Linked DNA regions of Homo sapiens. Each later gene encodes a partner of the first gene's protein in a complex. Each region holds a gene or a part of one and is shown in the gene's direction. Other genes may lie near its edges.

Region 1 (17,084 bases):
GCTTTCTGTTCTCCTTTGCCCTGGTACAGGATAGTGAGTGCAGATTCGAATAACCTGTTTCTCTCATGATACCATCTGAACTTTGGAGGGATGAAACCAATGAAACCAAGCAGGTGTGAAAACCTAAATTGGCCACGTTATTTAGACCTCATTCAATTACGAGAAAAGGTTACTCCACAGGGCTGAGCCCAGCACTCATTCTTTTTTTTTTTTTTTTTTTTTTTTTTTTTTGAGACGGAGTCTCGCTCTGTCACCCAGGCTGGAGTGCAGTGGCGCGATCTTGGCTCACTGCAAGCTCTGCCTCCCGGGTTCAAGCGATTCTCCTGCCTCAGCCTCCAGAGTAGCTGGGATTACAGGCACCCACCACCACGCCCAGCTAATTTTGTATTTTTAATGAAGATGGGGTTTCTCCATGTTGGTCAGGCTGCTCTCAAGCTCCCGACCTCAGGTGATCTGCCCACGTCGGCGCCTCCCGAAGTGCTGGGATTACAGGCGTGAGCCACTGCGCCCGGCCTCATTATTTATTTATTTATTTATTTTTTTGAGACAGGGTCTCGCTCTGTTGCCCAGGCTGGAGTGCAGTGGCACGATCTCGTCTCACTGCAAACTCTGCCTTCTGGGTTCAAGCGATTCTCATGCCTCAGCCTCCTGAGTAGCTGGGACTACAGGTGTATGCCACAGACCTTGGCCCAAGCCATAGCATATGAATTTGTAAAATCTAACCATGTCGCACTTAAAAGTGTCTTCCTCCTCATTAAGTAGTTCCTGATGTAGTTCCCCCGATTACAGCTGCCTTGCTCTAACGCCAATTGGATCAGCACGACTCAGTAAGTCAATAACAAACAGGCTTCCCAGTGACGATGGAAGTGGGGTCTTATTTGCAATTTTAAAAAGTATAAAAAGCAGGGGCTTTTATATAATATGAAAACTTGGACACAACTCCTGAGCACAACAGGAAAATAAGTAAGCAAACTTACCTGTGTGTTTTCCCTCAAAGGCAAATTCCACTGAAACAACCCAAGAGTTACAAGGAAGGGGAAAAGCCTGTGGCAGCATTGGAAAACAGAGAACAATATCATCAAGTGACCGATAGCACAGACGGATTTCTGAACGAAATGAAGATGATGGAATCAGATCAACAGGGAAGCAGATGGTGCCCAACAGCCTAGTGATGTAACACTGGCAAGGTACGGGGCTCCATGAGAGGTGAATGGGCTGCTCCAACCAAGCCCTAGAAACTACCCAAAGGCAGAGCAGCCGGGGCTGGGATAACAGGCAGGTGTGAGGCAGGCAGAGGAGGGCCAGAAAAGCCCTCCCATTACAACCAGGTACACGGTTTACTTCTCAGAGCTCTCCACGTCCTAGTCAAAGAAGTAAGGGTAGCCAAAAGTAGAAATATCAGAAAGACTCCAAATTGCCATTATTTGCAAATAAAATTGTCTCCTTAGAAAAATCCCAAAGAATCAACTAAAGAGTGATTTAAAAACAGTTTGGCCGGGCCCGGATTTGGCTCATGCCTGTAATCCCAGCACTTTGTGAGCCTGAGGCGGGTGGATCACCTGAGGTCAGGAGTTCGAGACCAGCCTAACATGGTGAAACCCCATCTCTACTAAAAGTGCAAAAATTAGCTGGGCATGGTGGTGGGTCCCTGTAGTCCCAGCTACTCGGGAGGGTGAGGCAGGAGAATTGCTGGAACCCGGGAGGCGGAGGTTGCAGTGAGCAGAGATCACACCACTGCACTCCAGCGTGGGCGACAGAGTGAGACTCCGTCTCCAAAAAAACAAAACCACAGTTCAGTAAAATGGCCAGATAAGATAAACATTCAAAACCACCAACTGTTCTAAGTGCAAACTCTAAACAGTCGGGGGAAAAAACGGTATTTTCACACAGTAGCAACAAAAGCATAATAACAGGTCAGGCGCAGTGGCTCACGCCCCAACACTTTCAGAGGCTAAGGCAGGAGGATCACTTGAAGCCAGGAGTTTGAAATCAGCTTGGTCAACATAGCTAGATCCCATCTCTACAAAAGAAAAATTAAAAAATGAGCCGGGCATAGTGGCTTGCACCTGTAGTCCCAGCTACGCAGGAGGCTGAGGCAGAGGACGGCTTGAACCCAAAAGTTCAAGGCTGCAGCAACCTATGACTGCATCACTGCCCTCCAGCCTGGGCAACACAGTGAGACCCCCCCAAAATAAATAAACAAATAAAAATGCAGCTGGAAGTAAGTCTTTATAAATTAAGACCCCTTTGAAGAAAATTATAAAACCTTGCTGCAGAGTGTTTTTAAAAATCTCAGCATTGCCAGGCGCGGTGGCTCATGCCTGTAATCCCAGCACTTTGGGAGGCTGAGGCAGGTGGATCACCTGAAGTCAGGAGTTTGAGACCAGCCTGACCAACATGGAGAAACCCCATCTCTACTAAAAATACAAAATTAGCTGGGCGTGGTGGCGCATGCCTGTAATCCCAGTTACTCAGGAGGCTGAGGCAGGAGAATCGCTTGAACCCGGGAGGCGGAGGTTGCGGTGAGCCAAGATCACACCATTGCACACCAGTCTGGGCAGTAAGAGCAAAACTCTGTCTCAAAAAAAAAAAATAAAGTAAAATAAAAATTAAAAAATAAATCGCAGCAAGCGGAGTAGAAAGGAAATCTATAAAGATATCAATGCTCCCAAACTTAACCTGTATGTTTAAATTAAAACCCCAAAGAGTTTCTTCTGGAAATCTGAAAAATTGATACTTAAGAATTATCTGAAAGGATACAATCGATAATTTTTTTTTGAGACAGTCTTGCTCTTTTGCCCAGGCTGGAGTGCAATGGCGTGATCTTGGCTCACTGCAAGCTCTGCCTCCCAGGTTCACGCCATTCTCCTGCCTCAGCCTCCCGAGTAGCTGGGACTACAGGCACCTGCCACCGCACCCGGCTAATTTTTTTTATTTTTAGTAGAGACGGGGTTTCACCGTGTTAGCCAGGATGGTCTCCATCTCCTGACCTCGTGATCCACCTGCCTCAGCCTCTCAGAGTGCTGGGATTACAGGCGTGAGCCACCGCACCCCGCCTATTTTGTTTTTTTCTTTTTGAGATGGAGTCTCACTCTGTTGCTAGGCTGGAGTGCAGTGGCACGATCTCGGCTCACTGCAACCTCCGCCTCCCAGGTTCAAATGATTCTCCTGCCTCAGCCTCCTGAGTAGCTGGGACTACAGGCACCCGCCACCATGCCCAGCTAATTTTTGTATTTTTAGTAGAGATGGGGTTTCACCATGTTGGCTAGGATAGTCTCGATCTCTTGACCTCGTGATCTGCCTGCCTCAGCCTCCCAAAGTGCTGGGATTACAGGCGTGAGCCATCATGCCCGGCCACAATCTATCATTTTTTAAAAATAAGAATGAAAACTTGCCCTATCAGGCAAAATGTACTGCAAATCCTAAGTAATACTGTATTTCCAGATTAAAGGCACTACTGCAAAGAAAAGTGTAAATTTATTTAATACCAAATGTTTCCTAAGTTTACTTTTTGCACAATGCACAGACACTTTTGGGACAATGTATGGTTAAAAACTAATATTCTACCAACAGCTCCATGCTGCTCTAGATCATCCTGAAGGAAAAAGTAATGCAAAGGATGCTGGGTCTCCAAGTCCCAGGACTGGCTGATAGCCTCTCCCAGTGGATAGCAGGTCCTAATTCTCTTCTTCGAGCAGATTCTCTGATTTCAGCTGGGCCTTCCTGATGCTCTCCAAGTTCAGTTGTTGATATTTTCTTTTAAAAAAGCCACACTGAAACAAAGGAAGGAAAAGTCCAGTTACAGGCCAAAGATAGCCATCTGTTTCAGAAAACCGGCATTCTGGCTGTTGCCTAAATAGCCCCTATATTCCTCTGCTTCTCATACTTACTACTCCCTTCTCCTAACTTACTCTGAATCTCTCCTGGAGAGTCCAATCCTTCAAGACCTCTGGTGCTCATCCCTCAATCAGAACTGACTCCACCTTCCTCTGAACCCTGCTCTCCCGAGCAGCTGAACCTTTTTAACTTATTTTGCAAAGCATGATAATTTCGGCTGTACTGGATCTAATCTTATTTATGCAAAAATACTCAGTATAGCCTATGATGCTGAAGACAGAAGGAGATCAAGTACAGCTTCCTACATCAAGCTCATCATCTAGTAGGAAAAAGAGATAATTACAACACAGTGTGATGACTGCCATTTGGAAGGGTTTCTAGAAGGGAGCTCACAGCAAACACACAGAAGCCAGCACAGAGGACTCAGGAGTCTCTAGACCGCTTTCAGGGAAGACAGTGAGTGAAGTGAGCAGTCATGGAGGGCATTCCTGACAAGAAAAGCAGCCTACGCGTACGCAGAGGCACGAACCTATTTAGGGAATAGTTTGACTTGTTGGGAGAAAAAAGCAAGGTCAGGTGCTTATGCCTGTAACCCCACCACTTCGGGAGGCCAAGATGAGAAGATGGCTCGAGCCCCGGAGTTTGAGACCAGCCTGGGCAATATAGGGAGACCTCATCTCCACAAAATTAAAATTAAAAAATTAGCTGGGTGTGGTGGCATGCACCTGAGTAACAGTCCCAGTTACTCAGGAGACTAAGATGGGAGGATCACCTGAGCCTAGGAGTACGAGGCTGCAGTGAGCCCTTAACTGTGCCACTGAGCTCCAGCTTGGGGGACAAAGACCCTGGTGTTTATTTTTAAAAAAGAGGCTGGGAGTGGTGGTTCATGACTGTAATCCCAGAACTTTGGGAGGCCGAGGCGGGAGGATCACAAGGTCAGGAGTTTGAGACCAGCCTGGCCAATATGGTGAAACCCCGTCTCTACTAAAAATACAAAACAATTAGCCAGGCATGGTGGCACATTCCTGTAATCCCAGCTACTCAGGAGGCTGAGGCAGGAGAATCTCTTGAACCCGGGGTCAGGGTGGGGGGAAGGGAAGGTTGCAGTGAGCCGAGATCGCACCACCGCACTCAAGCCTGGGCGAAAGAGCGGAACTCCGTCTCAAAAAAAAAAAAGAAAAAAAAGCAACACTTAAGGGCAGAGACGGGTAGCGGACAGAGAGGAGAGGATCTTAAATAGCAGTAGAAGAGTTTGCACATTAAGACAGGGGAAGGCAAGGAAAAGATTTCAACAGGGGAACAACAGTCACATCTGTTTTAAGGCCTTACCGTTAAGGCCTCTTCCAAGTAAGTTATAAATGCTGGCCTAGGGTTGACCTTCCAGGCCCTATTGAACTCACAGGTAACCGAACATAACAGTATTAAGTTCTGGGCCTTGAGAATAGGGAGGTACCAAAGAAATATATATAAAATCACTCTTTATAACTCAGAGTTTTCTCTTTTCAGACAGATACTGTTTTACTCATTTGTCTAAATGGGGGTGTGCAGTTGAAGGAGGAGAAAAAAGTGGCCACGAGGCCAGGGCAGCTGCTCTAAGTCAGAGGTTGGCTGTCCTAAGGAGTTCTGTGCCCAAAACTAGAGCCCAGTCTTCCCTCACTGTGATGCCATGAGTAGAACTGACCTTGAACAGGATGACCAGAATCACGATCAACACCAGAAGTCCACCAACGCTGCCTTTAATGATGATAGGCAAAGAATGGTACTTCTCATCTTTCAGGAAGACGACAGTGATCTAGACAAGACAAAGAGATCGCCCAATAAATCAGGTGAAGCAAACAAGGAAAAAATCCTACATGTTATTTTAAGGAGCAAAATACGAGGACTTGGCAACAACCCGTGTATTGATCAAAGCTGATGACAGTAAAGCAAAAAGCTAGATATTCCCTGATGCAGCATTTTAGATCATCTAAAACTATCCAATCACCCAAATACTTCGTAAGAAACTATTCTGGCCCCTTATCTAGAAGGGCTAGGTCTGTCAGGAGATTATGACCTTCTGTTAAAGATGCTCTGACAGCTTGAAAGAGGGTCCCACGGAATCCGGTCTCAACACAGGACTGTGAGGCTGTCACGCCGCTACACTGCTCTATGTCCCTGAGCCCCGTGCCTATGCTCTTTAAAATGATGACTTCCTTTAAATGATCTCCAAGTCCTTTCCAACTCCGTTCTGACGGCTCTTTTTGATCTTGCACAGATCCCTAAAGGCTTTGGTAATACACTTTCCCCACATAAAATATGACAAAAGTACTGGTCTTCCCCTCACCAGACTAAAAAGTGTGTATTACCTAAGGGACATAATAAATGCAAATTATATCCATGTGTACTACTTGCAGAGCTCAGCTATTAGAAGTCATCCGCAGGTTTTGTTTTCCAAAGGCTCTCCCAATTTCGGGAGTCTAATCTCTCTTCTGGCAGGGCTCAGCTAGAAAGTTCAGGAGATGTCCTTCCTGAGACCCAGGTATGGCCCTTCCAAGTTGTGGCCAGAGGAAGTTCCCAGGACTTAGGTGGGGCCAGAGAGCCAACAAGACTTCTCTGCCTGCCCAGAGCAACCCTTCACGTGTATGTTTAAGCACCAAGGTCAGGGGTGCTTTGGAGAGGTTTCTGTACGGGGTGAAGGGCTGGACAAACTTACCTTTAAGGCCTCTTCCAATTAAGTTATAAATGCTGGTTGACCTAAAGTTGACCTTCCAGTCCTATTTAGCTCATAGGTAGCTGAACTAAATAGGAGTGAAGTCCTAGGCTTTGAGAATAGGGAGGTACCATAGCAACAAAGAGGGAGGAAGAACAGAAAGAGGGCTGGAATATTCTACAGGAGAAGGAGGGGGACTCAAGACCCTGGGTTTGGGAAGTGAAAGGAAGTCCCAAGGTGACTCGGGAAACAGGCCAGATGTGAGTAGAAGAAATGTCCCTATTTCTCAAAGCCACCTCCCTTTATCTTCTTCTAAACCCACAGATTCCCAAAAGTGCCCCAAAGATGCCCAAGTAGAGGTTAAGGGAGAAGCAAGGCACCGGGTACTACTGTTTGCAGCAAACACGGATGCTGGCCTGCCCAGGGGCCCCTCTCTCCTTTTGGATTTTATTCAGGAATCATCGTTGGTCTCAGGTGATCATGACACAGCTATTCTCCTTTGCCAGTGACTGACATGAGATTCAGATCTCACTAATAAGATGTAAGAGGATGTCTCCTGGGAGCTTTTGGAAACTGTTTCATCCCTGAAAAGGGAAGGCACATGAAGAAAAATCCAACATCCTTTTGCTACTGACTTCTTGCTTCCTGTTTTGTATCCTGCCATGTGAAAATACAGCATTTGGAGATGTGGCAACTTTGTGCTGGCCATGAAGGAATGCGTCCCCCACACGGCAGAGTACAAGGACCAAAGAAGCCAGGCCATCGCCCCAGGCCGGCCTCCCTCACTGGATAAACAGCATATGCCCTTATGCTGCATGAGCTGGATTTTCCCTTTCTTGTGGCTGAAATGCATTTGGATACAGTTTGTTTATACTCATAGAGTCACTGTAAGTCAGGGGCTTATTGTCAGGAACTACTTAACACTTTGCTTAGGATATTGGATTTAAAGAAAGGAATTTTGGGGAATCCATGCTATAGAAATAAAAGTATCAGTAAGTAAGAGGGGGAAACATACAAATTTAAAATGTGCACATAAGAAACTTAATAGTAACTCCTCCCTGCTGGGGGCATGGGAAGGGAGAAATGAAGGAACAATTATTTTTCATTTGGTACCATTCTCTGTATGGCTTGGATTTTCTTGCTATTATTTTTATTTGTTAAAATCTGGGCAGTGCAATAATGGGGCACTTCTATTTCTTCCGTTTTCTGTATTTTCCATTTCCCTCTATTTTCTGTATTAGAAATACACTACTTAGCCGGACATGGTGGCTCATGCCTGTAATCCCAGCACTTTGGGAGGTCAAGGCGGGCAGATCACCTGAGGTCAGAAGTTCGAGACCAGCCTGGCCAACATGGTGAAATCCTGTCTCTATTTAAAAAAAATAAATAAATTAGCCAGGCATGGTGGTGGGCACCTGTAATCCCAGCTACTCGGGAGGCTGAGGAAGAAGAATCACTTGAACTGGGGAGGTGGAGGTTGCAGTGAGCCGAGATGGCACCAACGGACTCCAGCCTGGGCGACACAGTGAGATTCTTCCTCAAAAAAAAAAAAAAAAAAAAAGAAAAGAAAAGAAAAAGAAATACACTACTTAAAAATAAAAGGAAATGTTATATTGGCATGTCTAGAGAATTGCTCCTTTCTCCTCCTCCAGGGAGGAAAACAGAGGACCTTATATTTAGCAATCCAGCATCACTCTCCTGACATTCCCTCTAGTAGAGAATCATGCCTAACTAAAGAGCTCAGAGCTCACAGATAGATCACCTCTGAAGCCATGTCCAGGCAAGGGTCAACAAGAATGAAAACACAGGGTAACACACAAAGCATTCAGTCCACAAATCACAGGCATCAGTCTGACTTCTAGTCATACTTTTGCAAAAAGAATTCCAAGAGTTCCAGTATCTAGTCTAAATCTTATAAAAGATTTATGCATTCCTGAGTACTGTTTAATACTATAACTAAACACTGATACAGCACACTAAGACAGTTACTGGATACAAAAAACAATTTCTCACTTAGGTAATTCATTTTTTATTTATTTATTTATTTTTTGAGACTGAGTCTCACTCTATCACTGAGGCTGGAGTGGAGTGGTGTGATCTCGGCTCACTGCAACCTCTGCCTCCCAGATTCAAGCGATTCTCGTGCCTCAGCCTCCCAAGTAGGTGGGATTACAGGCACCCACCATCATGTCCGGCTAATTTTTGTATTTTTGGTAGACAGGGTTTCTCCATGTTGGCCAGGCTTGTGTTGAACTTCTGACCTCAGGTGATCCACCTGTCTCGGCCTCCCAAAGTGCTAGGATTACAGGCGTGAGCCACCTGCGCCCAGCTGCGAAATTTTTTTTTTTAATCAATCCATTTTCAAATCAAAGTATATACTGCAGATTCCAGCCTAGTTATTTCAACTCAGAACTCCTCAGCTTAGGCCTCTTAATTGCCTTATTTCATAAGAAGCTGACTCACTCAAAGGTCACAAAGGCAGCGATGGCAGAGCCAAGATCAGAAGTGTTAAGGCTGAAAACAGGAAGAGGGCAACAGAATGTCTGTGGAGGTGCTCAAAGGTTAGGCACAATTTTCCTTGGGCACTACTCAGAAGCCAGCCAGGAATTACCTTAGTTCTGTGGTTCTCTGCATTCAGTCCCTCATATAGAGATTTGTTGAAAGATATTTCACCAAGGATCTGCAGTTCAGTTACATCTTTTAGTAACTAGAAGATGGGGAAAGGAATGAGGGAAACAAAACATATTTTAGACATGAACTCACTGTGTTTGAACAGCCTTCACCACCTTTCCCTTTAAAGGTATTCCTGGGCTTAGTTAATGGCCCTAACGTACACAACACTACATAAAGTTACCCAAACAAGACATCTGCAGTTATTCTTCAACTTCCTTTTTTTTTTTTTTTGAGATGGAGTTTCGCTCTTTCGCCCAGGCTGGAGTGAAGTGGTGCGATCTCGGCTCACTGCAACCTCCACCCCGTCAGGTTCAAGCGATTCTCCTGCCTTAGCCTCCCGAGTAGCTGGAATTATGGGCATGTGCCACCATGCCAGGCTAATTTTTGTATTTTTAGTAGAGATGGGGTTTTGCCATGTTGGCCAGGCTTGTCTCGAACTCCTGACCTCAGATGATCTACCCACCTCGGCCTCCCAAAGTGCTGGGATTACAGGCGTGAGCTGCCGCGCCTGGCCTTTTCTTCAACTTCTTTTCCCTTGTGCCATCCAAAGTCAGTTCTTGACTGACTGACTTATTTTTGAGACAGGATCTCGCTCTGTCACCCATGCTGGAGTGCAATGGCATGATCATGGGTCACTATAGCCTCAACCTTCCAGGCTCAAGTGATCCTCCCACCTCAGTCTCCTGAGTAGCTGAGACCACAGGTGCACCCCACCACACTGGGCTAATTTTTGTATTTTTTGTAGAGATGGGGTTTTACCATGTTGCCCAGGCTGGTCTCAAACTCCTGGGCTCAAGCAATCCACCCACCTTAGCCTCCCACAGTGCTGAGATTACAGGCATGAGCCACCACACCCAGCTTATTCATTTTATTTAACGTAAGAGATTTTTCCTTTTTTTTTTTTTTTTTTTTTTTTTTTTTGAGACAAGGTCTCACTCTGTTACTCGGGCCGGAATGGAGTGGCTCAATCATAGCTCACTGAAGCTTCAAATTCCTGGGCTCAAACGATACTCCTGCCTCAGCCTCCCAAGTAGCTGGGACTACAGGCATGAGCCACCATGCGTGGCTAATTTATGTATTTATTTATTTTTAAGAAATGGGGTTTCACTATGCTGCCCAGGCTGATCTTGAACTCCTGGCCTCAAGCAATCCTCCCGCCTCAGCCTCCCAAAGTGTTGGGATGACAGATGTGAGCCACCACACTCACAATTCTTTTTTTTTAAATTATTTCTTGTATCTGTCCCTTTCTTTTCCACCCCCATTGCTACTTCTTCAGTTGAGACCTCACAAATGTCACCTGGATCACTGTAAAACATTAAACTTGATCACTTGATCACTAGTTCCCACTTTAGAATAAGTGATCAGGGAAGGCCTCTCTAAGAAAATAACACGTGTGGCCGGGTGTGGTGGCTCATGCCTGTAATCCCAGCACTTCGGGAGGCTGAGGTGGGTAGATCATCTGAGGTCAGGAGTTCAAGACCAGCCTGACCAACACGATGAAACCCCATCTCTACTAAAAATACAAAATTAGCCGGGCGTGGTGGCTCACGCCTGTAATCCCAGCACTTTGGGAGGCCAAGGAGGGCGGATCACCTGAGGTCAGGAGTTCAAGACCAGCCTCACCAACATGGAGAAACCCCATCTCTACTAAAAATACAAAATTAGCCGGGTATGGTGGCGCATACCTGTAATCCCAGCTACTTGGGAGGCTGAGGCAGGAGAATCGCTTGAACCCGGGAGGCGGAGGTTGCAGTGAGCCGAGATCGTGCCATTGCACAACAAGAGCGAAACTCCGTCTTGAAAGAAAGAAAAGAAAAGAAAAGAACACCTAGGTCGGGTGCGGTGGCTCACGCCTGTAATCCCAGCACTTTGGGAGGCTGAGGCGGGCGATCACCTGAGGTCAGGAGTTCGAGACCAGCCTGGCCAACATGGTGAAACCCCCTCTCTACTAAAAATACAAAAATTAGCTGGGCGTGGTCGCCGGCGCCTGTAATCCCAGCTACTCGGGAGGCTGAGGCAGGAGAATCACTTGAACCCGGGAGGCGGAGGTTGCAGTGAGTAGAGATCGTGCCACTGCACTCCAGCCCGGGTGACAGAGCAAGACTCCATCTAAAAAAAAAAAAAAAAAAAAGAAAAGAACACCTGAGCTAAATTTAAGAAGAAACCACCTACGTCAGGACCTAGAGGAAGAGCAGTGTCAAGCAAAGGAACAGCAAGTACAAAGTCTTGTGGCCAGAATAATGCTGTACTGGCGAGCTAGAAGAATAGGACAGAATAACCCGATTATAAAAGGGGCAGTGGGAGAGAAAGGCGAGTACTAGGAGATGAAGTTGAAGAATTAAGCAGAGACCAGATCAAGTACTGCCTTGCTCTGGCCATGAAAAAAGTATGGATTTTAGTCTAAGTGTGCTCAAGCATCAGTTTTGTTTGTTTGTTATTTTTAATAAGCAGGGGAATGGCACAATCTAATGTCTGCTCTTAGAAGACGGATAGCTGTTACGTGGGAATTATTTGTAAAGAATGTGGGAAAAGCAGAGGCAAGAAAGGCAGGCCGAAGGTTATTGCAACAGCCCTGGCAAGAAAGGGTAGCTTGAATTACAACGGCAGTGGAAATGGAGAGAAGTGAATGGGTTTAGGATATATTTTGGCCCTGAAATGGCAGGGCTTGCTGCTGGAATAGACGTGGGGATGTAGGAAAGAGGAGTCACAGGTAATCCCTCGAGTTCCTTGTACTGTAACTGGAGTATATCTCCCTCCTGAGGGTAGCTAAGGAACGGGTTGGGACAGAGGGTTGGTTTTTTGCACCAAAAGATCTATTTTGGACATGGACATGTTATGCAAAGATGCTATTATCTCTTCTAGGGGCGATGCCCGTGAGCAACTGGATAATCAAATCTGGAGCATTTCAGTCTCAAACACCTCCTCAGAGTGATCCCAGGAGATCTCTGCAGCCACGGTGACATTTTCTTTATCTGAAGCGATGACACAGCTCACTGAATGCCATTCTTCCACATGCTGGAAAAGCGAGGTCTAGTGAACACAATTCCTTTCCGTGCGGAAAGTCTGAAATCTTTTTAACACTTCGGACACAGAGCATCGTAAGGTCCCAGAATAGAGGGTGTGAGCAATTTCAGCGCTCACCTCGGCCCAAGCGAAGCTCCAGCGGGAGCAATTGAGACCCAGGGACGAAGCTAGGGAGGGCCTGGCAGCCCCCGGCACTGGCCGGCAGGGGTAACCCAGGAAAAACAGTCTCCTGGCCTCTCGTTACCCGCTTCAGGCCCTCCGCCCTCCCCTGGCCTCTCGGGACGGCCGCGCTTACCTGAACCGAACTGTACGCACAAGCGCGCTCCTGACTCCAGGTGCACACCGTGGAGGCCTGAAACGAGAGCCATGACCGCGACGCGCTGAACAAACCAAGCCGCCAGTTTTCCGTCCCGTCCCGGCCCCGGCCCTGGCGAGGTGCGCATGCGCAGGGCCGGGAGCTAGGACCCCGCGGCAGGCGGGCGCGTCCGCGTCGCACGGAAGTCTCGCGATGTTTGCGTTTGAACCTCTTGGCGGGTGCCGGCCATGGCGGCTTCGCTCCCGGGACCTGGGAGCCGGCTTTTCCGCACATATGGGGCTGCGGACGGCAGGAGACAGCGGCGGCCGGGCCGGGAAGCCGCGCAGTGGTTCCCGCCGCAGGACCGGAGGCGTTTCTTCAACAGCAGCGGCAGCAGCGACGCCAGCATCGGCGACCCCTCGCAGTCCGACGATCCTGACGATCCCGACGACCCCGACTTCCCCGGCAGCCCGGTGAGGCGGCGGCGGAGGCGTCCCGGCGGCCGAGTGCCCAAGGACCGGCCCAGCCTGACCGTGACCCCAAAGCGCTGGAAGCTGCGAGCTCGCCCAAGCCTAACCGTGACCCCAAGACGCCTGGGGCTGCGAGCTCGGCCCCCGCAGAAGTGCAGCACACCCTGCGGCCCGCTCCGACTTCCGCCCTTCCCCAGCCGCGACTCCGGCCGCCTCAGCCCGGACCTCAGCGTGTGCGGCCAGCCCAGGGACGGCGACGAGCTGGGCATCAGTGCCTCCCTGTTCAGCTCTCTGGCCTCGCCCTGCCCCGGGTCCCCAACGCCAAGGGACAGTGTCATCTCGATCGGCACCTCCGCCTGTCTGGTTGCAGCCTCAGCCGTCCCGAGCGGCCTCCACCTCCCAGAAGTCTCCCTGGACCGAGCATCTCTCCCCTGCTCCCAGGAGGAAGCGACAGGAGGAGCCAAGGACACCAGGATGGTCCACCAAACCCGCGCCAGCCTCAGGTCAGTTCTCTTTGGCCTTATGAACTCAGGAACCCCTGAGGATTCTGAGTTTCGGGCAGATGGGAAGAATATGAGAGAGTCCTGCTGTAAAAGGAAACTGGTGGTGGGAAATGGACCAGAGGGTCCAGGTCTGTCAAGCACAGGCAAGAGGAGGGCCACAGGCCAGGACTCTTGTCAAGAGAGAGGGCTTCAAGAGGCCGTCCGGAGAGAGCATCAGGAGGCCAGTGTTCCCAAGGGCCGCATTGTGCCAAGGGGAATAGACAGGCTGGAGAGAACTAGATCAAGCCGGAAGAGCAAACATCAGGAGGCAACGGAAACCTCTCTCCTCCATTCCCACCGCTTTAAAAAGGGCCAAAAGCTGGGAAAAGATTCGTTCCCCACCCAGGACCTGACTCCTTTACAGAATGTCTGCTTTTGGACCAAAACCAGGGCTTCCTTCAGTTTCCACAAGAAGAAAATTGTGACTGATGTGTCAGAGGTCTGCAGCATCTATACCACTGCCACTTCTCTCTCTGGATCCCTCCTATCAGAATGTTCAAACCGGCCTGTCATGAACAGAACAAGTGGTGCTCCGTCCTCTTGGCACTCCTCCTCTATGTATTTGCTAAGCCCCTTAAACACTCTAAGTATTTCAAACAAAAAGGCATCTGATGCTGAAAAGGTTTATGGGGAATGCAGTCAGAAGGGTCCTGTCCCCTTTAGCCATTGCCTTCCCACAGAAAAACTGCAACGCTGTGAGAAGATTGGGGAAGGGGTGTTTGGCGAAGTGTTTCAAACAATTGCTGATCACACACCCGTAGCCATAAAAATCATTGCTATTGAAGGACCAGATTTAGTCAATGGATCCCATCAGAAAACCTTTGAGGAAATCCTGCCAGAGATCATCATCTCCAAAGAGTTGAGCCTCTTATCCGGTGAAGTGTGCAACCGCACAGAAGGCTTTATCGGGCTGAACTCAGTGCACTGTGTCCAGGGATCTTACCCTCCCTTGCTCCTCAAAGCCTGGGATCACTATAATTCAACCAAAGGCTCTGCAAATGACCGGCCTGATTTTTTTAAAGACGACCAGCTCTTCATTGTGCTGGAATTTGAGTTTGGAGGGATTGACTTAGAGCAAATGCGAACCAAGTTGTCTTCCTTGGCTACTGCAAAGAGCATTCTACACCAGCTCACAGCCTCCCTCGCAGTGGCAGAGGCATCACTGCGCTTTGAGCACCGAGACTTACACTGGGGGAACGTGCTCTTAAAGAAAACCAGCCTCAAAAAACTCCACTACACCCTCAATGGGAAGAGCAGCACTATCCCCAGCTGTGGGTTGCAAGTGAGCATCATTGACTACACCCTGTCGCGCTTGGAACGGGATGGGATTGTGGTTTTCTGTGACGTTTCCATGGATGAGGACCTGTTTACCGGTGACGGTGACTACCAGTTTGACATCTACAGGCTCATGAAGAAGGAGAATAACAACCGCTGGGGTGAATATCACCCTTATAGTAATGTGCTCTGGTTACATTACCTGACAGACAAGATGCTGAAACAAATGACCTTCAAGACTAAATGTAACACTCCTGCCATGAAGCAAATTAAGAGAAAAATCCAGGAGTTCCACAGGACAATGCTGAACTTCAGCTCTGCCACTGACTTGCTCTGCCAGCACAGTCTGTTTAAGTAAGCTAAATGTATCTTACTGCCCCGAAATGAGAGGAGACTGGTCTTGAAGCCTCTGGTGCTGTTTCAACCTCCATCCCCACAGGAGGGTGGAACTCCCATTCTCACAGGTTTCCAGTCAGCTTTTCAAACAAGAATTTTGTTTCCAAATGGAAACTGAAATATTTGTTGAAATGTTTAAATTTGCTGATAACAAATGTTCTGAAAGAAGTAAACTAGCCGGGCACAGTGGCGTGCGCCTGTAGTCCCAGCTACTCGGGAGGCTGAGGCAGGAGGATCGCTTGAGCCCAAGAGTTCATATCTAGCCTGGTCAACATAGCAAGACCCCTGTCTCTATTTTTTTAAATAAATAAACTACATGTGAAAACAAACGTTTATATTTATAAACCCTCTTTTTTTTTTTTTTAATTTTATTGAGACAGAGTCTTGCTCTGTCACCCAGGCTAGAGTGCAGTGGTGCGATCTCAGCTCACTGCAACCTCCGCCTCCCGGGTTCAAGCAATTCTCCTACCTCAGCCTCCCGAGTAGCTGGGATTGCAGGCATACACCACCATGCCCGGCTAATTGTTTGTATTTTTTTAGTAGAGATGGGGGTTTCACCATGTTGGCCAGGCTGGTCTCGAACTCCTCACCTTGTGATCCACCCACCTCGGCATCCCAAAGTGCTGGGTGATTACAGGAGTGAGCCATGGCACCTGACCTATAAGCCCTCTTTCTAATTGTCAGCAGAGTCCTTTCTGTAAATTCCTTTCCGTTTTTTGAGCCTTAACACTTATGTAGTCTGAGCAAAAAAAAAATGCCCAGGCTTCAGCTTCATACTGAGCAGAGCCTGTTGCTTCAGGTATCAAGGCTAGCTTTGGGAACCAGACTACAGATGAGACAACTGAAAGCAAAGAGGCTGAGGCAAAGCAGAGACCAAAAAAGAGTCTCAGGGGAGAAGAAGGGAAGCTAGTAAGCAACTTATAGGGGGCAGTGTAAGAAATGTCACATGTTACATCGCTCACACAGAGAAGCAGAATTTATCAATTTTCAAAGGGAAAATGTCTCTGTCTACTGACAAGGTTTTAATTTTTGCTTTTTTTTTTTTTTGAGATGGAGTCTCACTCTGTCTCCCAGGCTGGAGTGCAGTGGCAGGATCTCGGCTCACTGCAAGCTCCGCCTCCCGGGCTCACACCATTCTCCTGCCTCAGCCTCCCAAGTAGCTGGGACTACAGGCGCCCGCCACCACGCCCGGAGAATTTTTTGTATTTTTAGTAGAGACGGGGTTTCACCGTGTTAGCCAGGATGGTCTCGATCTGCTGACCTTGTGATCCACCCGCCTCGGCCTCCCAAAGTGCTGGGATTACAGGTGTGAGCCACCGCACCTGGCCAATTTTTGCTTATTTTTCCTCAAAGGGAGGAAAACTGACAGGTTGCTTTAAGAGCTGAGTGATTGAGAGTCCTTCTGAACAGGACTTCGGGAATTTACTCCTAATCTTTTCCCATGGTTAACTTGTCTTCACTCTGTTTCTAGAACTCTGGTTTTTATACTTGAGACTCTGTAGTCACTGTGGAAAGAGGTGTGACTGATAAAGAACTGCCTTTAAATACCTGAGTCCTCGTCAGCTTCTTCACTGCTACAACCTGGAGACCTCGTAATTTGGTTGGGACGCAAATTTGCAACTGGTATTCTGCTCCAAAGAGGTTCTCCCCATGTACCTGCAAATTAAAATCAGAGTAGGAAATCAAAGCTGGTATTGCTTTGCCATCTACAGCTTTACAATAATAAGTACTTACATGGAAGAGGAATTCTTTGTGGTGAGAAAGCCCCTGGCCTGTGTTCACGTACATTATGGATGGTCTGCAATTGACAGGACATGCGTCAGCCCTTGAGGAGTCTTTCTCCCTTTTTTGGAGACAGGGTCTCACTCTGTTGCCCAGGCTAG
Region 2 (12,667 bases), on another chromosome or scaffold:
CAGAGGTAATCAAGTTAAAATGAGGTCTTTAGGGTGGGCCCTAATCCAGTATGACTGATACCCTTATAAGAAGACATGGAGACAGCCGGGTGCAGTGGCTCACATCTGTAATCCCAGCACTTTGGGAGGCCAAGGCAGGTGGATCACCTGAGGTCAGTTCGAGGCCAGCCTGACTAACATGATGAAACTCCATCTCTACCAAAAATACAAAATCAGCCGGGCGTGCTGACGCATGCCTGTAATCCCAGCTACTCGGGAGGCTGAGGCAGGAAAATTGCTTGAACCCGGGGCACAGAGGTTGCAGTAAGCCAAGATCATGCCACTGCACTCCAGCCTGGGCAACAAGAGTGAAACTCCATCTCAAGAAAGAAAGTAAAAAAACATGGAGACATACATGAAAAAACTGAGGTAGAGATTACAGTTATGCTGCCAGAAACCAAAGAACAAGTGGGGCTACCAGACACTGAAAGACAGGAGTCTTCCCCTAGTGGGTTTGGAGAGAGCATGGCCCTACCAACACGTTGATTTCAAACTTCTAGCCTCTAAAACCATGAAAGAATAACTTTGTGTTGTTTTACGCCATACAGTTTGTGGTACTTTGACAGCCCCAGGAAATTAGTACAACTACTAAAATTTTTTGATTTAGTTTATTTAAAATTTTTAAATAAAATTTCACATCTGAAAAAAAACCCTGGACATTTTTCCTGTGATGGTAATATTAGTCTTTAGCCTTAGTCAAGTATTAACATTTGGACATCTGTTCCAAATATGTAATTGGAGCAACTCTGTCCTAATTGACCCTATTTGACTTGAGACCTTTCATGAAAGGTCTTTCCTTTTATCTAGGAAATTATTATTCCTGAAATATTTCAAGATTCAAACTGGTATAAGTAAATATGTCAGACAAATTGGCTTAACTGGAAGTCCAAAGGTGCAGCAGGGATCCAAGGTTGGCTGAACTCCATGAGTGGCTCAGTTCCCTGATTCTCCCACACTGTGTCCTCCTCTGCATATTGTCTATAATCATTCTTGCCTTCATACCTAAAGACAGTCCATCCTCCTGCTGCCTCTTGAAAGCAAATAAGCTGCTTTCCCAAAAGATAATAGCATACTACACTCCCCTGCTGAGTTAGTTGTTACTCAGTTCACTTCCTGAAATGTTAAATGCCAATGAGTTTGATCTAGATTCCTGAACTAATCACAGTAAGAAGCAGGTTCAGACAGCAATTAAACTAATCAGGCCAACCCTAAGAACTGTGGGTAAAATGCGTTTCTGGGAAACACATGTGGCAGCACTATAACAGAAACAATTAGAAAAATAAATGCTACCTAGTCAATAACATACATTATAGGACTATGAACTACTAAGTTACACCTCATGACAAACACATGAGTAATAAAGTCTAGAAAAATACTTAAAGGTGATGTCCATCATTCTCATTGCTGTGTTCACAGTTCACAGGTAGACCCTAAAGACAGGCTTGTGTTGTCTTTACTGAACCCTAGATGCATCTCTCAAACTGTCAACTGCACATATCCACTTGAATAGCAAAGAGCTTCTCAAATTTCAGTCGGAACTCTGGATCTCCCTTCAGTGTCCCAACGAATATCTTCTCTCAGTGTTCTATCCTAATAGTACCACTATCTACACAGTTGCTCAAGCCAAAAATCTAGGGGTTTCACTGTTAGCTAAATCCTGTTCCTCAGCCACACCTATTAATTCTACCTCAAAGATAAAATCCAACATTTGTTTCCATTACCACCATTGCACTCCAGCATGTCATTTATCCGTTGTTTTTCACACTTTAGCATATATCACCATCACCCAGAAAGCTTAACACAAATAATGGAACCTGGGAATTTTCATTTTTAGTAACTTCAAGTAATGCTGATGCTGCTGGTCTGGAGAGACTTTAAGTCTTAATCACTGTTCCAGCCCACAACACTGCAACAGCCTCCTAATTGCTTTCCTCGCTTCTATTGTGGCCAGCCTAGGATTTACGATCCCCAGAGCAATCAGTATAATATTTTGAGGTTAATGAGGCTGTGTGATTCCAAGTCCAGTGTTCCCAAAGCAGAAAACAAACCTAATCAACCTCCCTTGCAAATTGGTGGTCCTTCTCCTCTTCAGGGATCCCAAACTCTGGCTTCAGAAATCGTATATTTTGTTGCTATTGTATGGAACAAACCCTTAAACTGGACAAGCTTTTCCGAGTGATAACTCTTGGGGAAAAAAACCATTTAATGGTATTGGGTAGATTTTAGGGTATCTCAACTAGAAAGCGCAGAAGGTTATCGGTGTTAACTCCTGGTTATCAAAATCGAACTTCCATCTACCTCCTTAAGGAATTTTCACATGAGTGGTGGTGTAGGCACGTGTTTGTGAACCAATGATATAAAAACCTCAGGTTTCTCGATACCATATATAAAAGTTGAGCTATTCCCTTTTAAGTACACATCTGAGAGCATACAATGCATTTAATCTCTACCTTCATTTTACCACTGAAGAGCGGACCCAACCTTTGTTCATATACACAATTTGATCTTACATAAACTTATCAAAATTAACACTGCGTTTCTCAACAGGAAACAATCTCCTGGGCACATATTCACGGGTACGTAACCAGGCCAAAGACAGTTCAAGAGCAGCCCTCTAAGGCAAGCCCCAACCTATCTATGCCATAGTAAGATACCACTATCAATCTATGTAAGCTTACTTATAGCAATGCCTATGTGAAAAGAAAATAGTTATCTGTGCTTGGTGTTGTGTGCTCTCCTAAAGTTAACCAGACGTGAAGCCAAAAACATCAACTGGGACTGACAACACAAGAAAGATTCTTTAACTGAGGTGGTTAAATGGCCCTGAAAAGAGCCTTTGGAGACAAAGCAGCCGGCGACCCGCGGAGGGAGGGAGGGAGGGAGCGAGCGAGCGCCAGGTCCCGGCAGGGACTCACTTGGAGCTGGCGTACTTGGTGACCGCCTTGGTGCCCTCGGACACGGCGTGCTTGGCCAGCTCGCCGGGCAGCAGCAGGCGCACGGCCGTCTGGATCTCCGGGACGTGATGGTGGAGCGCTTGTTGTAGTGCGCCAGGCGGGACGCCTCTCCCGCGATGCGCTCGAAGATGTCGTTGAGGAAGGAGTTCATGATGCCCATGGCCTTGCACCAGATGCCGGTGTCGGGGTGGACCCGCTTCAGCACCTTGTACACGTAGATGGAGTAGCTCTCCTTGCGGCTGCGCTTGCGCTTCTTGCCGTCTTTCTTCTGGGCTTTGGTGACGGCTTTCTTGGAGCCCTTCTTGGGAGCCGGCGCGAACTTTGCAGGCTCAGGCATGGCCAGACCCAAGACCGACACCGACCCCCGAGAACGCAAGCAGAGCGGTAGGCTCGGGGTCTACCGGAAACGACTGTGTACTTACAGAGGCTGTGCGCATGACGCTGCGTTATGGTTCGCGAGTTTTCCGCGGCGCGCAATGCGAGGGAGACGAGATTATGTAAATGAGTGGATTCTGGCTGAGCTATCCTATTGGCTATCGGGACAAAATTTGCTTGAGCCAATCAAAGTGCTCCGTGGACAATCGCCGTTCTGTCTATAAAAAGGTGAAGCAGCGGCGTTTTCGGCGACTTTCCCGATCGCCAGGCAGGAGTTTCTCTCGGTGACTACTATCGCTGTCATGTCTGGTCGTGGCAAGCAAGGAGGCAAGGCCCGCGCCAAGGCCAAGTCGCGCTCGTCCCGCGCTGGCCTTCAGTTCCCGGTAGGGCGAGTGCATCGCTTGCTGCGCAAAGGCAACTACGCGGAGCGAGTGGGGGCCGGCGCGCCCGTCTACATGGCTGCGGTCCTCGAGTATCTGACCGCCGAGATCCTGGAGCTGGCGGGCAACGCGGCTCGGGACAACAAGAAGACGCGCATCATCCCTCGTCACCTCCAGCTGGCCATCCGCAACGACGAGGAACTGAACAAGCTGCTGGGCAAAGTCACCATCGCCCAGGGCGGCGTCTTGCCTAACATCCAGGCCGTACTGCTCCCTAAGAAGACGGAGAGTCACCACAAGGCAAAGGGCAAGTGAGGCTGACGTCCGGCCCAAGTGGGCCCAGCCCGGCCCGCGTCTCGAAGGGGCACCTGTGAACTCAAAAGGCTCTTTTCAGAGCCACCCACGTTTTCAAATAAAAGAGTTGTTAATGCTGGCCACTCTCAGTCCAGCGTTCCTCAGTAGTGAATAGCGAACCTGGAGCTGACGGGACGGGACGGGACGGGACGGGACGGGACGGGGCGGGGCGGGGCGGGGTGTGTGTGTGTGCGCGCCGTCTTCCATCTGGAGCACGTAACTGCCTTGGCTCTTCGATGAGTGGGTCCCCAGTCCTAGGACTTCCCAGGGCAGGTGCAGGCACCAAACGTCCTGGGCGCCGCCACGGTCCGCTCCACACAGTCACAAACACCAGCGCCGCGGGCAGTACCCAACGCGCTGAAGTGTTGCGCGCGGAGCGCGCGCTTCCCTAGTGGTTTCCGCAGGCTATGGCCGGACACTTAGACCTAGTCTGGCACCAGCGGGACGTGCTCCTCGTCCCCACCCCCGATGGGGAGGGCCCTGAGCGGGTAGTGCTCGCTAGTGTGGCGGAGCTGGGTCTTGGCTTCACTGAGCTGACTTAAGTCTTAGTTTCTGTTTTGTTTTCCAAAGCGCCCTGGCGGCGGAGAGTAAGGGCCTCGGAGGCGGAATCTTGCGTCCTGGGGGCGGGCACCTCTCCCACCCAAAAGGCACCCGACAGGCGAAAAACGATCCGCCAAGTAGCAACTGGGGGCGGGGGGCAAATGGAAGAATGAGGTTCCACGCGGGAGCTGTAGGGCGCAGCAAGAAAGGGGGGGTATTGCGGGCAGTGTGTTCTAAGGAAGCGAAGGGCGGAAAGGGAACAATCTGACAAAGCTGCAATGGAAAATGACTTTCACCCTGAAGGAAAGGGGAAAAACAAGCTTGCGAAACTTCGCCAACTGGTAAGTAGAAAGTGAGGCGGGGTGGGCGGGATTAGGGAGGAATCTGCCCAAGCCAACCGGTGACTTTAGGACGGGTGACGTCACAGCCAATGGACAGCCAGCGCGGGATTTTCAATTATTGTTCCGCCCAATCGGGAAAAGACTGTGCTTATAAAGACGGCTGCGGCGGGGCTAGGAGCTCGTTTTTCTCCCCGCCGCTGCGCTGGTAAGCCTGTGTTTTGGTTCGCTATGGCCCGTACTAAGCAGACTGCTCGCAAGTCGACCGGCGGCAAGGCCCCGAGGAAGCAGCTGGCCACCAAGGCGGCCCGCAAGAGCGCGCCGGCCACGGGCGGGGTGAAGAAGCCGCACCGCTACCGGCCCGGCACCGTAGCCCTGCGGGAGATCCGGCGCTACCAGAAGTCCACGGAGCTGCTGATCCGCAAGCTGCCCTTCCAGCGGCTGGTACGCGAGATCGCGCAGGACTTTAAGACGGACCTGCGCTTCCAGAGCTCGGCCGTGATGGCGCTGCAGGAGGCCAGCGAGGCCTACCTGGTGGGGCTGTTCGAAGACACGAACCTGTGCGCCATCCACGCCAAGCGCGTGACCATTATGCCCAAGGACATCCAGCTGGCCCGCCGCATCCGTGGAGAGCGGGCTTAAGAAGTGGCGGTTCGGCCGGAGGTTCCATCGTATCCAAAAGGCTCTTTTCAGAGCCACCCACATCAGCACTTGGAAGAAGCTGTACCGCTTGCCCTCCGTGCTCCTCCGGCATTAGAGCGGGGAAGGCACTTCCGCTTAGGCTCCCAACAAAACGGGGTCGGGTCCCCCTGCTGCGGTGCCGTCTTGAGCTTTGCCGACTTCGGCCAATTGGCCTATCCGCACTGGCCGGGCTGCGGACGCTTTCCTGGGCGCCGGCTCGCGGGCTTTGGCGGTCCGGCTCCCCCCGCGCGTGACCGGGGCCCTGCGTGGCGGGGGGGCCGGGGCAGGAGAGACGGGGCGTCGGGCACGAGGCCAGGGGTCACTAGGGGGACGCTCAGGGCTCGCGGTCCTGAGCGCGGCTGGCCTTTGCGGAAGTGGAGCGCCACACGCCCGTGCTTCGCGCCCAAACCGGCCTCACCCGGCGCGGCCATCCGGCTAGGGAGGGAAATGACCACCTCGGCCTCGCCGGGGTTCTGCGGACAAACGTGGGGAGAACTGCGCTGGGGCTGCCGTTCAGTCCCCGCGCCACCTCCACTAGCACAGTGGTAACCCCCATATCCTGCCCCTAAGCCAAAATTCCCGGGGGCACGGGGTGTGGGCGGAATTTTGTGAATCTGGGCTTTATCGAGCCGTTCCCTGTCCATGTCCACAGAAGGAGATTCACTATTCCAGTGAAGGCACTCGGTCCTCTTAGAAGCTGCATGGTATGTCTGGATTTTCTGTCCAGACTCAGTAGTTCCTTTACGTTGTTTTCGTCGGACATGTGGGCAGACGCTGGTGCCCGAGTTCAGATCCTTGGGAAGACAGTAGATCAGACAGGAAGAACGTGGGCCTCCGTTGGGCAAATGAAGCTCTTCGCCTTAGGAAATCGTGACAGGAGGCCACAGAGGTGATCTCTACAGTCTCTGGGAGCTGGGAAGTCCAAGGCCTCTTAGTGGGAAAGTGAGGCAGGGTCTTGCAGAGCCCACTCTACACACGGCCAGATACAAATGGCTGTAGAGGTCTTAGATAACACCTTCTCGGTCATTTATTTGCACCTCAGAAGAAGCCAGGGCTTCGGTTTTCTGTTTGTTTCATCACAGTTGACAGGTTAAAAGCATTCACTGCAGCGATCTATGAGAATTAAGAGGGGAGAAGGGGAAATGGAATAAAACTTCGTTTTGTAAAGCTGCCATTTTGCCTTTCCTGAGGCGTGTTAAGCGAGGAGAGCAGCGTAGGTGAGCTCTGCTGGGGACTGCCACATGTTTCTGCTCCAGGGTCACAGCAATTTCTAGAGCATGCCTCTGGGTCTCTGCCGAGACCCTCGTAACCTGCTTAGGCCCACAATGTATGGGCGGTATTCTGACTTCAAAAAGTAGTGACTTTCAGAGGTGGGTGGGTCACTATCTCTGCACCCAGCTTCTCAGGCCCAGTAGTAACTGAGCAGAGACTGGAACCTGGGGATGTTGGTGTCAGACATCTAGGTCCTCTGACTGCCCCCACAAGGTCACACTCCTTTTACTCACCAGTCTGGGTACCTCTAAACTCCAGGAGGTCTCCCTGGCTGAATCTCAAAAGGAAAATTTCGTGGCATTTTTTATATCCAGTCAGGAATAGAATTCATTACATCTTGTGGTCCTGGCACTGTGAAGGCCTGCACTCACAGGAATCTGTCAGTCTTCGTATTTGTTTGCGAGACCAGCATAAGCTGAATTCATCAATACAAGATAACATTCTAAAATGTTAAGTTTTAACATTTAATCATTCCCTGTACTTAAATCATTGTCTACCCTCAGGTGAGAGTTAAAGGATAATTAAGGATAGGGTAAAGAAATACTCTTCCTCTGACTAGGCATTGTGGCTCACAGCTGTTAATCCCAGCACTTTGGGAGGCCAAGTCGGGCGGATTGCTTGAAGTCAAAGTTCCAGACCAGCTTGGGAAACATAGCGAGACCCTGTGTCTCTACCAAAAAAAAAAAAAAAGACAGAAAGAAAAATGAAAAAATTAGCCGGGGGTGGTGCCATTTGCCTGTGGTCCCAGCTACTCGGGAGGCTGAGGTGGGAGAATCGCTTAAGTCCGGGAGGCGGAGGCTGCTGTGAGCTGAGATTGTGCCACTGCACTCCAGTGTGGGTGACAGGGAGTGAGACCCTGTCTCGAAGAAAACCCACCTCTTCCTCTAATAACCAGCTTCTACGTGGCTACCTTGGTTGCCAGTAAGTCCACTCTGAATCTGTGGCTTTTATGAAGTGAAAAACGTGCTTTGTTCACATTTAATTCTGCCTTAGGCTAGTGGGGGACAGGTGTGTGTGTGTGTGTGTGTGTGTGTGTGTGTGTGTGTGTTTAGAGGGAAACTACGTGGTAAGAGACATGGCCACGTTTACACTGATTTTTCTTCCTTAGAAGAGGACTTGTCCCCTGGGTCCACTCTCCTGGTCACCCTTATCCTTCTCTAGGTCCCCATCTCAGTCTTCTCATGTCTTTCTCTTCCCCATCAATATTCCTGGTTTCCCCCATGCTGGCCTTGGCCATCTTCTTTTCTCCCTGCAACTCAAGTGAGATTGATTGCCTGCTTTCACTATTTCTGTCCCTTAGCTAAGCGCTCCCAAATTGCTATCTTCTGCTGAGACCCTATCCTGAGCTCTACACATTTTGTGTGTGTGTGTGTGTGTGTGTGTGTGTGTGTGAGAGAGAGAGAGAGAGAGAGAGAGAGGGAGATAGAGAGAGAAAGAGAAACAGGGTCTCACTCGTCCAGGCTGGAGTGCAGTAGCACAATCAAAGCTCACTGCAACCTTGGACTCCTGGGTTCAGGGGTCCTCCCACCTCAGCCATCTGAGTAGCTGGGACTACGGGCACACACCACCAGGCCCAGCTAATTTTTTTTATTTTTTGTAGAGTCAGGGTCTCACTTCATCGCCCAGGCTGGTCTTGAAGTCCTGGGCTCAAGCCCTCCTCCCACCTTGGCCTCCCAAAGTGCTGGGATTATAGACGTGAGCCACTGTGCCTGGCTACACCAATGTTTCTAACTGCCTGGTAGACAGGTCCTTCTGGATGGATACTAGGCACTTCAAACCCAGCTTATTTCCAAAACCACATGCCTCATCTTGCTTTCCAAGCCCATTTGTTTCTTTCCACATTCCCCATCTTCCTGGAAGACACCTTCATTAGCCCCATCTGTTCTGGTTGGGTGTCCCTTCCTCTTGTCCTCTGTCCAAATCTCATGAGTTCCAAATATTACTAAATCTGTCTTCTGACTTTCAATTGTATCACCTTTTCTCCGTCCACCCATGACCATGCCTTAACTGAAGTCCTCGCCAGCTCTGGTCTAGTAGATTACATAGTCAGGCTGGTCTTTCTGCCCTGCCATTGAGCTTCCACTCCGTATGACAGCTATCTTTTTTTTTTTTTTTTTTTTTATGAGACGGAGTCTCGCTCTGTCGCCCAGGCTGGAGTGCAGTGGCACGAGCTCGGCTCACTGCAACCTTGGCCTACCGGGTCCATGCGATTCTCCTGCCTCAGCCTCCGGAATAGCTGGGACTATAGGCGCCCACCACCACGTCCGGCTAATTTTTTGTAGTTTTGTATTTTTTGTATTTTGTGATCCGCCCGCCTCGGCCTCCCAAAGCGTTGGGATTACAGGCGTGAGCCACCGCGCCCGGCCAAGAGCTATCTTTTAAAAACTGAGGGTTTTTTGTTGGTTGGTTGGTTGGTTGGTGTTGCTGTTTTGAGCCTGTCACTTTCATGCTTAAAAATTTTCCACGACCTTCCCATTCCCTTCAGAATGAAGTTCACATTCTTTTGCATGGCAGTTCAGAGCACCGGAGGTTAATTACTAGGAAGGACTCTGGAGTTAGACAAACCCAAGTTTGATTCCTAGCCTTGTCCATGTAAACAGGTGCATGACTTCAGGAAGCAAATCTCAACAGGTTTAACTTTTCCCATTTGTAAAACAACGAGTAACTTGCTCGTTGTTTTGTTGGAAATCATGAAAGTGACAATTTCTGTAAATTGCGGTGCTCATGCCTGTAATCCCAGCGACTCAGGAGGCTGAGGCAAGAGGATTGCTTGAGGCCAGAAGTTCGAGGCTGTGGTGAGCTGTGACTGTGCCACTGCACTTCAGCCTCGGCAACAGCAGTGAGACCCCATGTCTAAAAAAACAAAGGACCTAGCACAGTAGTAGCACAGTATCTGGTCCAGAACAAGCACCCAATTAATTTGTGCTACTCTATTAATAGTTACTAATTTAAAAAAAAACTGAAAATATTATACATCTAGTTCTTTATGTTTCCCACAGCCTTCCCAGGTTTCAGATGTTCTTGCAGCTGAACAAGAATGTTTAGCCCCACACGACATCTGCAATCTCCAAGTACACAATATCTTCACACATTCCATTTCTGTCCAGAATGTCCTCCCCTTCTCTGTAACCCTGAGAACCCCCATTCTTCAAGATTCAGCCCTGTGAGCCTTCCCTTGCTCTTCTGGTTTTTTGTTTTTTCTTTTTCTTTCTTTTTTTTCTTTTCTTTTTTCTTTTTTTTTTTTTTTTTGAGATGGAGTCTTGCTCTGTCACCCAGGCTGGAGTGCAGTGGCGCGATCTCGGCTCACTCCAACCACCGTCTCCCGGGTTCATGCGATTCTCCTGCCTCAGCCTCCGGAGTAGCTGGGACTACAGGTGTGTGTCACCACGCCCAGCTAAGTTTTATATTTTTAGTAGAGACGGGGTTTCACCATGTTGGCCAGGATGGTCTCGATCTCTTGACCTCATGATCTGTCTGCTTTGGCCTCCGAAAGTGCTGGGATTATAGGCATGAACCACAGTGCCCGGCTCCCTTGCTCTTCTTTGCCCTCATCTCTTTGGGCCCTCCTCCTTGCCTCTGCCCTCTCCTATCTTAATACCCCTTCCCTTCCTTAACCTCAGCATTAGGCTGGCAACATTTCTCAGGGTAAGGATTTGTCTTTGTTTATTTCCATAGTAGCAGCAGTACCCAAGCAACGCCTGGTCACAGTAAGTCGAGTGAAACCATCTCTCAAAAAAACAAAACAAAACAAAACAAAAAACGAACTACATTGAGTGGGAAAGGCAATAAATATATCACCTTTGGTTTCTGTATCACTTCATGGCCTCATTCTTCTTTCACACAGAACTTTTCATTTGATCCTTAAAATAATCCTGTGAAAAAGGCAGGAATTCTCAGTAATTGGCCGGGCACCGTGGCTCATGCCAAAGAAAAAGAGGCCAGGCGCGGTGGCTCACGCCTGTAATCCCAGCATTTTGGGAGGCCGAGGAGGGTGGATCACCTAAAGCCAGGAGTTCGAGATCAGCCTGGCCAACATGGCAAAACCTCCATCTCTACTAAAAATACAAAAATTAGCCCGGCATGGTGGTGGGCACCTGTAGTCCCAGCTACCTGGGAGGCTGAGGCAGGAGAATCACTTGAACCCGGGAGGCGGGGATTGCGGTGAGCCAAGATCGTGCCACTGCATTCCAGCCTGTGTGACAGATCGAGACTCCATCTCAAAAAAAGAAAGAGGAAGGAAGGGAAGGAAGGGAAGGAAGAAAGGAAGGAAGGAAGGGAGGGAGGGAGGGAGGGAGGGAGGGAGGGAAAGAAAGAAGAAAAGAAAAAAAGAAAAGCTGTTACCTGCATCAGTGGCTTTCAACCTTTAATGTGTATCGGGAGGGCTTTTTTAAAGCACCGATTACTATGTCTCACCCCTCAGTTTCTCATTCAGTAGGTCTGGCATGGGTCCCAAGATTTTATCCGAGGTGATCAGTGCTGCTAGATGAGAGGCTACACTTTGAGAACCACTAATTCAGACAATGGACGTGTTTTCTCCCCCACTCCCTTTCTGCTTTATCTTCAAATTTTTGATCTCCTTCTTTAGTGGATCTTGGTGCGGATCAGATATATTCATCAGCATTGCCTTTAAAGTTAAAAACAATCAGTGATATTCGAAATAGCAATGCTGGAAATCACAGGTCAGATTTAAAAGGGAAAAGGAAACATCTTGAGCATTAAAACCTCTATTTCTCACCTGGACATCTTCACAAATGTTATTCTTGCCACTTCCTCCCTGCCCTCGCCCCCTTTACTATGTATCTCAGTAGGACGCCAATCATTCTGCTCTTTATTCAGAGTCCGACACAAGCCCCCACGTCCATAGCCAAGTTTTCCCCGGTTTCCCAGCAGCCAGTGACTTCTGTAGCATTAGGATTCTTATAGTAGTTATTGTCTACATTTCTCAGCAGATTGAATATGTACTGCCTCTTACTACTGGACTGTTTATTCTTAAATGTGTACAGTATGGATTTATGTCGTCTATATATTATGCATTTATTTGTCTTCTTCGTTGTGATGGTAAGCTCCTGGAGGGCAAGTCTTGCATCCACTGCTTTGCTGGCAACCCGACTGGTAAGCTTCTGGAAGGCAAGGCTTGCATCCAGTGCTTTGCTGGCAACCCGATTGCTAAGTACCGTGTTTTAAGCTTAGTTCAGTCTCAAGTGTTTGCAGCCACATCTGAAGACCAATAAAGCAACTGCTGGTTTATCCTTTGGGAGCTGACAGAATTTCTTCTCCCAAATACATACACAGTAAAATCATAAGCCTGGAATGAAGAAAAAAAAAATCTTACGGGCAATGCAATGGCTGCAAAACTATAAGGATTAGAAATGTGAACCCACATTTTAATCCAAATTAGGGCAATTTAGAGGTGGTAGCGTAAAGAATAGCTTGCTGTAATATACGCCATGCTGATACAGAATTGGCTTTTGGCCTTGTCAAAATTAAATTGTGCTTTCTGTATTGATGGTGGGCATGTTTCTGCAGGTCTCTCATTCTAAGCTACAACAGGCCCTAAGAGGTAGAAGTCACATACCTGAATTACCTGTGAAGTTGCTTTCAGATCATATCGTTGGTTCACTCTTACAGAAGGATCACTTTAAAATATCTCTGCATTTGTATCCTTGCAATGCCACAACTAAAAGACAGTTATCTCATAGGTCCTTGATTAAATTAGGAGGCTTTTTATTGAACA

What was found.
Region 2: the proteins of HASPIN (region 1) and H3C15 are in contact, whole or in part, in a crystal structure (PDB 4OUC), measured with the Homo sapiens proteins. Residues at the interface, in NP_114171.2 of Homo sapiens: Glu492 (codon at 14,240), Gly493 (codon at 14,243), Val494 (codon at 14,246), Asn522 (codon at 14,330), Ser586 (codon at 14,522), Ala587 (codon at 14,525), Asn588 (codon at 14,528), Glu613 (codon at 14,603), Asp649 (codon at 14,711), His651 (codon at 14,717), Trp652 (codon at 14,720), Gly653 (codon at 14,723), Leu690 (codon at 14,834), Asp707 (codon at 14,885), Asp709 (codon at 14,891), Leu710 (codon at 14,894), Thr712 (codon at 14,900), Gly713 (codon at 14,903), Asp714 (codon at 14,906), Gln718 (codon at 14,918), Phe719 (codon at 14,921), Tyr722 (codon at 14,930); in NP_001005464.1 of Homo sapiens: Ala2 (codon at 5,215), Arg3 (codon at 5,218), Thr4 (codon at 5,221), Lys5 (codon at 5,224), Gln6 (codon at 5,227), Thr7 (codon at 5,230), Ala8 (codon at 5,233).

Annotation. Positions count from the first base shown.
Region 1 is NC_000017.11:3,711,170-3,728,253, forward strand, and holds HASPIN (serine/threonine-protein kinase haspin), read left to right. Parts: upstream 1-12,733; 5' UTR 12,734-12,766; coding exon 12,767-15,163; 3' UTR 15,164-15,530; downstream 15,531-17,084. Other genes in the region: ITGAE (integrin alpha-E isoform 1 precursor), read right to left, coding at 3,678-3,773, 5,519-5,629, 9,138-9,233, 12,119-12,214, 12,519-12,575, 16,750-16,857, 16,936-16,999. UniProt on the Homo sapiens protein: Serine/threonine-protein kinase that phosphorylates histone H3 at 'Thr-3' (H3T3ph) during mitosis.
Region 2 is NC_000001.11:149,847,444-149,860,110, forward strand, and holds H3C15 (histone H3.2), read left to right. Parts: upstream 1-5,164; 5' UTR 5,165-5,211; coding exon 5,212-5,622; 3' UTR 5,623-5,682; downstream 5,683-12,667. Other genes in the region: H2AC19 (histone H2A type 2-A), read left to right, coding at 3,671-4,063. UniProt on the Homo sapiens protein: Core component of nucleosome. Nucleosomes wrap and compact DNA into chromatin, limiting DNA accessibility to the cellular machineries which require DNA as a template.